Linked DNA regions of Homo sapiens. The protein of the gene in region 2 purifies or fractionates together with the protein of the main gene of each other region. This does not show direct contact. Each region holds a gene or a part of one and is shown on either strand. Other genes may lie near its edges.

Region 1 (5,117 bases), on a different chromosome or scaffold from region 2:
TATAAAGACCATGCCATGAAAACAAGTCAGTGATTCACAGGTATCAGTGAAATAGATGATAGGTACATTATCTAGTACTGGCATCTGAGAAAATTTATTAATTCATTGCCAGGATTAGCAATGAGTTATGTCTACAGATTATACTGTCTCCAATAATATGATTATTATGTAGATTTCAAAACAAGCCAACAGCATGATGCCAAAACATTCGTAGATTAATGCAGGTTTAAAAGATGCCAACACAATAAGGAGTCAAAGAAGTAGCTCTCAGATGCTCAAGAATAAACTTTTTTTTTTTTTTTTTTTTTTTTTGAGATGGAGTCTTGCTGTCACCCAGGCTGGAGTGTAGTGGTACAATCTTAGCTCACTGCAAACTTGCAAACTCCATCTCCCAGGTTCAAGTGATTCTCCTGCCTCAGCCTCCTGAGTAGCAGGAATTACAGGTGCCTGCTACCATGCCCAGCTAATTTTTGTATTTTTAATAGAGATGAGGTTTTGCCATTGGCCAGGCTGGTCTCAAAGTCCTGACCCTCAAGTGATCCACCTACCTCCCAAAAGTGTTGGGATTACAGGCGTGAGCCACTGTGCGTGGCTCAAGAATAAACTTTAGAAGAGGCCTGTTATTTTATATTAGCCCAAAGCCAAACTGATCACCTTGACTCAAAGACCAAAGAGGTTTGATAACCTCTTAGAAAAATAAAACCACTGGGAGGGCCAAGTTTTCCTTCATAAAATAGTCTAATGTCTGCTGTAGCTCTTAGCAAAGTTAATCAATCAGGCCCAATGTTCTATCTGAGATCTCGGTAACTGTCTCTCTTTATCCACTGAGGCCATACAGAGAAAAACAGAAATTAAAGCCACTCAGAGAATACTTATTTTCAAGCCAGTAGCTTCTGGCAAATATAAGCCATTTAAATACCCAAGGCCCTGTAACAGTTTTATTTTTTAGCTTTGTCTTGAACCATCCAATCTTACACAAATTAAATACTCTTTTGAGACCACTCTACCATACTAGCTATTACAAAGAAGTGTCGTTTTTCTATTCTCAAAACTGGGCATGGGGGAGACATTGTTCTATCTCACATAGAGAAGTCTTCAAGTCATTCCCATACAAATTAAAAAGAAGGGGTGTTAATGCATTGTTCTGCTCAAAATGATTAGTTTTTCAGATGTCCATGCTTGTTCCTTTTCAGATATCTATCATCTGTTGCTTTGAAGCCCTAAATCTCAAAAATTAAAATTCATACCATCTTTGTTCCTTCTTTGTTTTTGTCCTTCTCACCTCTTTGCACCAGCCCTTCCCTCCTGCCCTATTTCCCTCCTCAACCAAACTTACCTCCTGTCTGAGTGATGACTTGTATGTCACTTGAAAGGGGACCATCTCCAATTGAGGTAAAAGCCAGGACTTTGACAGAATATGTTTTCTGGGGCACTAAGTTGCCAATAGTAGTGATTTGGCTGTCAGCTACATTGTGTTTCATCCAGTTGTTGACATGTTGAGTGGGATCCATTGTATAATAAACTCTATATCCTTGGATCTGTCCATTTGGCTCTTCAGGTTCCTTCCACTGTACCAAAATGGTGGTCGAACTCAACATTCGTGCCTGGACATCCCTCGGGGCACTGGATGGTGCTTGCTCTGAGGTTTGTGTTAGCACAGGTTCGCTGGGAGGCCCCCGCCCAATGTTATTGACAGCAACAACCCTGAATTCATAATCCGAGTAGGGACTTAGTCCAGCGACACTGTAGCGTGTGGTCGCCACCCCATCAATTTCTTTGTAAAGTTCCTCAGAGTTTTTAGGTTTATGCTGAATTATGTAATAAGAAACAGGCTCAGGGTTCCCAGAGTCCCACGTCAGTGTGATGCTTGTAGCTGTGCTCTCGGTCACTACAGGAGTTCCTGGAGGTTTGGGTAAGGCTTGGATGGGGGAAGATAAAAGACAATGACTACCCATCATCCCTATAATATTTCAAAAATCTATAAACTCTACTATGAAAATGACAGGATTATGTATCTACTGAAGATTTAATTAAATGAAATTATAGCAAAGAGTAGTTTTCTGAATGGCCAAGAAGGACAGGAAAACATTCATAGGTGACACAAATCCTGCTTTCCTAGAAGGGCTTGATAGCATATTTTTAGGCTTGTATCCAAATCCTCTACTTATTAGCTAAGTGATCCTGCACGCATTTCTTAACCTCTCTTTGCTTTAGTTTCCTCATGTGGAAATGGGAAAAATATTATTATTTAAGTCATATTATACAGCTGTATGTAACTGTATTTCATGGGTTTGCTGTGAAGACTAATGAGCCAATCCACTAAGATTCTTAGAATGTAACTGGAACCCACAAAAAAACCTTAGTATTAGCTGCAGTTATTACTATTATTATACCAAAAGCTTGGCCAATTAGCCCCTTGCCCCAATAAATAAATGGTATAACTGAAATACCGATAAACATTGAAAAGAACAAAATGTGGAATACATTGAAATGAAATTAAATTGCGATGAAACAATAACATCTATATTCTGGTAAGACACAATACCATTACTAAAAATTTTCTTGTAAATGAAAAACCAAAAATTTTAAGGTGCAAAAGAATAGAAATTTCAAATCAATGCTTTATTCTTAATATTTAAAAATTGCTGAAGGAAGTAAATTAAGGCACATTCACCAATCACTTTTTAAGGTATGTTATGGTCATATTAATATGCATTCTATATTCCACATCAGAAATATCCAATGTAGCTACATGACAAATATTTGCAATAAAATCCATCTTTTTAGAGGTCTAATTCTTTCTTTTTAGCAGAAGAATACAAATCAAAATACTACTAATTAAAAATATAAACTGTCTGCTTTGCTGACCTCATATTCAAGTGCCTTATTCTAAACAATGATTCTGAAACGCAGTGCTATTAGGGTAGGAAGGGGCATTCTAATAGTTGACTCTTTAGAGAAATCTCAAAGGGTAACATTCATATAATCAGCCCATTAGTGTCCCTGTTTCCTTGCCAACATAAAGGCAAGAAGTATAACACCCCCTAGAATGGCAGCTTTTCAAGAGCAGCAAACTTGTACTTCTGACTTACTGTAAAATTGTGAATGCCTAGAATGCTGCCTGGCACTCGGTAGGTTTTTAATGAGAATCGTTAAACAGTTAACTGAATAAATGAGTCAGCACCCATTCACCTCATTCTCTTCAACCTGTTCTTTTGTTTTGATTTATTTTAATTTGCCATTAAGATTCACTCTTATGTTTTATTTGTTTATTTTTGAGGTGGAAAAGACAGGGAAGTGGCAAGAGTCAGGAAAACAAAGATGAGAAGGTGAACAAAATATTAGTTTAAAGTGGCCCCTGCTTTTGAATTCTTAAAGGTCTTCAGCAAGCCTTCAAATATTTAAAGCTGAAATGGTAATTATAAAAAAGGTGATTCAATATTTACACACTACTCAAAGAACTACAGAATGATAGTATTTTGTCAAGGGAATTTACTGAAAATAATAATAAAATGAAATTTGTTTAAATATTCTGACCTGGCATTTTTCAAGGCTGTGTGTGCTCCAGATTTCCCCTACATGTCTTTCTGAACTTTCAAAGCAAATACAAATATTGCTAATTAAAGCTGTGCTCACTGATATTTAGCTGACATTATTAGTTTCACTAAGTCACATTTATTGTACAGTACAGGTTTTATGTCTGTAATGTACGGATAAATACATGTGTGCTTATTATATTAAGGTTACACAATATAACATTATTTCACGATTGTAAATGTTGACAATGTGTACCTTTGTTCTCATGTCATTAGTTTTATATAGCATATATTTGATATATACGCTTGGTTAGAGATGCGATACCAATTATAACGTGTATTGCATTTTCTAAGATCACCCCCTAGAATGGCAGCTTTTCAAGAGTAGCAAACTTGTACTTCTTACTTGCTGCTGAATTCCAAATGCCTACAACATTGCCTAGGAAAAGAAGATAATTTGTGTTCATTTTGCAATAGTTCTAGCCATCTGCAGAAAACTTAAGTTGCCCTATGTCTGACTCAATTTGCAAACACTTTCTAGAATTCTATAAACACTAGGGGAAAAAAAAACGGTACCCTTACATGCTTGTACTCTTTCTCTTTAGTTCAAAAATATTCATGTAATATAGTACTTTGGTTATATTTAGTCTGTTTTTTAAAGGAAAGAATATTCCTTGAGCACTCATCTATGCAAGGTGAAAGATAAAACTACAACAGAATATACTCTTACTTGCCTTTTGATTTTTAATAGTAGGGCTCACCAAAAAGTTAAATCATCTATTACTAGACTATGTTGATTTCAACTTTTTTTTTCTTCTTTTTCCTTTGTATTTAGAAATTTTAAGCATTTATTAATGCTCATATTGACTTTTCTTGGGGTTCTTATCAAGGTTCTGGTCTAGTATGTAGACTGTACACATCAGTCCCACCATAATGGTCGACCATGTGTAAAATTCCTAGTTCTGTCTGGTTAGTGCCTGGGCCTCCATGGACTGTCTTTTAATATTCTGATGATTATCTCTACATAGGCTGCCAGATACTTCCAAGAAAAAATCCGCCTATCTAGGCTTATGCATGTTATATAATACCACAGATATGATTAGGTTATACACACATTTAAAATGCTGAATAATGAATTATTTTAGATTTTCAAGGATGGGCTTTCTAGAGGCATTAGTCACTTGGCTTGAGTGTACCCAGATCCTCAAAGCATAATCCATTGAGCATACCTTTGACAGTGATCTGTGCTATTGCTTCAATGACACCCAGTGTTGACATAGCAACACAGGTGTAATTTGCTGACTGTCTTACATCATTCAGTTCTAGCACATTTCTTCCTATTGGCATATCATCTTCAGGTGTCAGATCTTCTGCCCCCAACATCCACTTTACATAAGGCATTGGTGACCCCACGGCCACACAGGTGATATTAACGCTTCCGCCTGGCATGATTTCATGATTAGTGGGTGGGATAGAGAATCTTGGTGGGACACGGCGAACTGGAACAAAACACAAGGGAAATGATAACATATACAAGGCAAGAAAAAGTGGATTATTAAACACATGACATGCACCGTACAG
Region 2 (5,117 bases):
ACTGTTCTAATCTGGTCCTAACCAGAAGCCTTGTGGTTTGGTCAAGATACAAGATGATGATATTGTATGATGACGATGATACTAAGAATTAACAGTAACAATGGTAGCTGCATTGTCTATGGACCATTTACAACACGCTCAGCATTGTTCTAAGAGTTTTACATGGCCAACCTTCATATCACAGTGGAGGCAGAGAGGTGAAGCTTTTGGGTTTGTTTGCTACAATGTCTTAAATTCAGCTCCTCTTGGTGGAATGATATCTCTGAACCTAACCTATTCTCTTTATTTAGAAAATGTGATTCCATGAATCACCATTTAGGGGCATTATAATATTTTCAGAGAGAAAAGAGAGAGTGGGATACAGAAGAGAATCTGGAAACAAACAAAAAAGGCTCTAATGTATTCACCTGTTTGCCAATTCTTTCAAAGCACATCAGTGGAATCCATATTTCTCATGTCTAGACAAACATAAAGCACTCTAGGGGTCCACCACGAAAGGTGACAACCATGTCAACTACGGACTTCATAAAATATCTAGTCTGAGTCTTCTTGTCCCTTAAAATCTCTCCACTTGCCTCAGAATTAGCATCCTCAGAATGCAGACTTTGTAGCAGGCAGAAATGTCAGATTTGAACACAAATACCACTTCTACTCATTGCTACTGTATACTAAGTATGTACCTTGGAAGAGGAACTGTGCTAAGGACTTTATATGCATGTTCTCACTGAATGATTCTAGTGATTCTAAGAGGCGGGCTCTATTATCATCCCCATTTTGCAGATGTAGATACTGAGGTTCCATGAAATCACTCTAGATCACAGAGCTGAGAAGCAGTTCTGAAACTAACTCTTCCCAAATCTAGGACATGCCTTGTTACCCACTCCTTCCCCTGCCTTGGGCTGCATGTCCTGTAACACTACGGCAATGACTGACACATTGCTCTGATGCTTCACTTGCATGTCAGGAGGATACCTTAAAGCAAAACAATCCTTAGAAGCGAATCTCAAGTAGTAGCTTTTAATATTGCTAGCAGTTTGAAGCTCATAAAAATCATTCAATACTTTTCATGGCCGGGGGCAGTGGCTCACGCCTGTAATCCCAGCACTTTGGGAGACCGAGGCAGGTGGATATCTTGAGGTCAGGAGTCCGAGACCAGCCTGGTTAACATGGTGAAACCCTGTCTCTACTAAAAATACAAAAATTAGCTGGGCATGGTGGCAGGCACCTGTGATCCCAGCTACACAGGAGGCTGAGGCACAAGACTTGCTTGAACCCCGGAGGCAGAGGCTGCAGTGAGCCAAGATCACGCCCCTGCACTCCAGCCTGGGCGACAGAAACAAGGCTCCATCTTAAAGAAAAAAAAATCATTCAATACTATTCATTAGATTCAGCAACCTACTTATTTCTGCAAATATCGGCAGTAATTTTTTCAAAATTAATCACTTTACCTGTCTTTTCCCTGTGTAACAAAAGATGCTTTTCAATTTTTAGACACCTAAATTTAGACAATGATGATATAACTTAATAGGCAGTGAGATGGTAAGGGTTAGGAGAATGCAATCTGTAACTATGCATTCTCATCCATTTAAAATGATTTAAAGAGGGTTTATAAATATGTTCTGTTAATAATTCTAATATAATTTTAAAAGATAATTCAATGATTGGTTAAATAAAAATACCAAACTAGATTTCAAAATTAAAAGTAGTAAAATAAAAAAAAAGTGATTTATTTTACATAGACTTTAATATGGAATTATGTAACTTTTTGAGTGGAATGGGCTAAGAGAGCTAACGTAGTCCAGTCCTCTTGTTTTATAGCTGCAATTAAAGAGGAAGAAATATAGCCAAGCACTTTAACAGTACAGGTTTAGAGTCAGACAGACCCAAGTTCAACCCCTGCTTCTCCACCGACCAGCTCTTCCCCTATCATTCACAAGTCACAGAGGCAGTTCTTGAAAATGCTCTGCCTGGAAAGCAGGAATGCCATAAACTGAGAATTCAAATAAAGGACTCTCTCCTCTAAAACAGATGTGTACCCATTCATTCATTCATTCATTCACTTGACAAATATTTATTACATACACACTAGTTGTTTGACCTTGGGCAAGGTACTTAGTTGCGGTCTGCCTTAGTTTCCTGAGCTATAAAGTGGGTGTCTACATTACAGAGTTGTTGCAAGGATTAAAGGAGTTAATGCACATAAGGTGTTGGTGATGGGTCCCAACACATTGGAAAGGCACAGTGTAGAGTATCATTATTCTACTGCTACTACTGTATGCTACGTTAGGAAAAATGGTGGGCTCTGGGGATAGAATTTGGGAGCTCTATGTAATATTTTCCTCTCGATCACTAAAGCATCTCATTTGCATAGAACTAATCTCCGCTCCAGTGCTCAATCCTGGTAGTGAAGCCATTTGGGAACTTGTTCACCAGGACTCCAATTTGACAGTGTGAATGAATGCATGAAGAGAAACATATCCCACCAGCCTTTGCCCACATATTTTGTGTTTTGCCTTCAGATGGCTTTGAAGTGACCTACATTTTTCACATGGCCTCCCCATGAGAAAGGATGAGTTTCTGAGTACGTGAGGAGGCTGGCTGTGTCCCTGTGGAACACAGCAAAGCTAACTGGTCCTTTGGGGGGTTAGGCCTTACATGTAGTCCTCACTGCACAGAACCACAGTCAGCTGGAATAACAACCTGGAGAAAGCCAGTCATTGCTACTCCACTGTCCTTATGGTTCTCTGATGGTCTGATGAGTTCATGTAGATTCCACATGTGTCCTGGAAACTCTCAGGATATGGTTGAAGTCCTACCTAACTCTCACTCCTGATCCTGGAAACCACAGAGAATGAAAAGAACCTTGAGTAGTCATGTGGCTTCTCAGTCTTACTTCTCATAGGAAACCTTACACTCATTATCCCAGAGAAACCAGAAATAAGACCTTGAGGGAAGGTTCTCTCCAAAACTCGTTCTGACGTGCAAGTCTTACTAAACAAACAAGAAAGAAACATAAACTTGTATGAAATCTGTCTCCCCTGCTCTATATGTGTGATGTGTGTGCATGTAAGTGTGCATATCTGTATACACTGGTCATTATTCTCTGATAGGAAAGTTAAAACGCTCCTATCAAAGAAAAAACAAAAATCAATGAAAACAGAAAATGATACCACTATAACATCTATTCTAGGCAGTCCATTCTTCCCACATGTTCTGGGTTGTCCCATTTTCTATCTCGTTTTCTAACTCTAGCTGCACTCTCCTATGAACCTTTCTTCCCAGATTGTCACAAGTCTTTTTTTAAGTGGCTAAGGTCAGCTTAAGATAAGCCATTAGGTAGGGGGCGTGGTTAATCCTTAGGTATAGGGGAAACCCAGCTTAAGTTTCTCTGCATGATACTTTTTAACCGATGCATCGTAGGTCCTTGCTTTCTTCGGTAACCCAAGAGCTAGCATGCTGAGTCACCGTCAGCTTGTTACCTGTTAGGACTCCACGGTCTAGGAAGCTGCTACCATCTGAGTGGAAGACACTAGGTCTGAGAGAGACAGGAGTCTCAGGTCTTATCCCACCTCCAGTCTCCCCCTAGATGGGTGACCCTAGACAAATTCAACTTGTGCTGGGAAGAGGAGCCTCACAAGACCTCTCCTTTTACAGATAAACTTCATCGAGTGACTTGTCCACAGTCACAATGAACCTCTCCATGACTCTTGTCCCTCAGTTACTGGGGAAAAGGAGAAAGAACAATCACATTTGGTTTCTCAGGATGTTATAGGTCAAATGAGATAAATATTTAAGGATTTGGCAAAGTTTAAAGCTCTAAAATATGAGGCAGTGACAGCTTTGTCAACTCAGCTGCATCTTCTCTTCATGCAGCTTGTGCTGTCCTATGTCTATTGCTATCGACTTTCTCTCTGTTTCCAGCCTCCTCTCCCGTTTACTCAAGACACACTGAATTCTGACCAACTCCTACAAGGAATTAACTCCATCTTCAGTTTAAAGTTCTTGACAAACTTAAGGAGTCTACCCTCTCTCAAGCAACCATCCAACCCCCTTATGTTCAAAGAGGCTAGATGGAAAATCGTCTCCTGCTGAGCACTTGTGTGGCAGGTGAAAGCCTGTTCTGTGAATTAACCAGTCTGTTTCTTAAAGCCTCTGCTGGCAGCTGACATCTGAGTTAAGGCTGCTGCTTCTGTACTTGTGTAGCCTGCACTCCCACCATCATAGCACGCTATGCTGCACTTGTCAGTCTCCTTTCTGTAACCCCGACTAGACTGAAGCTCACTGAGGGCAGAGGCAGGATCCTTGCGACTACTGACATTTGGACCAGATAATTCTCCGTCGTGGGGCTTCCTGTGCTATGCATTTTAGGATGTTGAGCAGCATCCCATTAGATGCCGGTATAACACCCTCATCCCACCCTCACTTGTGACAGCGATGACAAAAAGAAGGCTCCAAATATTGCCTAATGTCCCCTCAGAGGCAAAAATCACCCTTGGTTGAAATCCTCTGTGCAGAGTGCCTTTTTCCTACAGAGCACTCAATAAATACTTGTAGGAGAATGCATAGGTTGATGGAAACAAAATGCTCCAATGTACAAGCTGCAGAAAAATCAAGCTAACTTATTTCAGTTTTACTGCCTTCTGTAATGCCTGGCATACAGCAGGTGCTCAATATATACTTGTGAGGTGAACAAATGTTTAATGATTGTAAATGGCTTCCTGTACCCCTGGTAAAATTTTTCCCCTCAAGCGGGCCCAGGTGAGGTGGTGAGAAACTGTCAATGCTAGGGAGAGAAAATTTTAAAAAGAACAACAAAATCTCTTAGCTATGGGATTAGGGACCAGAAACATCACCTTGCAGAAAGGTAGGGGCTGTACCCAGACCATTAGCTCTCCATATAATTCTAGCTCTTGGGGCAGAAATCAAATTATTCGCACTGGTGATATTGAAATCATCTACCAGTGTTCCTGGATCCTTTAACGCACAACTCTGATAGAGCCATGAAGCACCGGGATGGTTGCAGGACATCCAGAAGGTCAGACATTGAGTCATTAGTGTCATTGCTGGGAATTGAGCCTGCGCCTTCCTGATTCTCTGTACAGTACTTGATTACACTG

Evidence for each region. The genes of interacting proteins can lie anywhere in the genome.
Region 1: the proteins of LRRN1 (region 2) and PTPRD purify together in Homo sapiens (affinity purification with mass spectrometry; 2 studies listed by BioGRID and IntAct, with this or other methods). This does not show direct contact.

What each region holds. Positions count from the first base shown.
Region 1 is NC_000009.12:8,516,512-8,521,628, forward strand, and holds part of PTPRD (receptor-type tyrosine-protein phosphatase delta isoform 1 precursor), read right to left. Parts: intron 5,036-5,117; coding exon 4,766-5,035; intron 1,919-4,765; coding exon 1,337-1,918; intron 1-1,336.
Region 2 is NC_000003.12:3,805,395-3,810,511, reverse strand, and holds part of LRRN1 (leucine-rich repeat neuronal protein 1 precursor), read right to left. Parts: intron 1-5,117.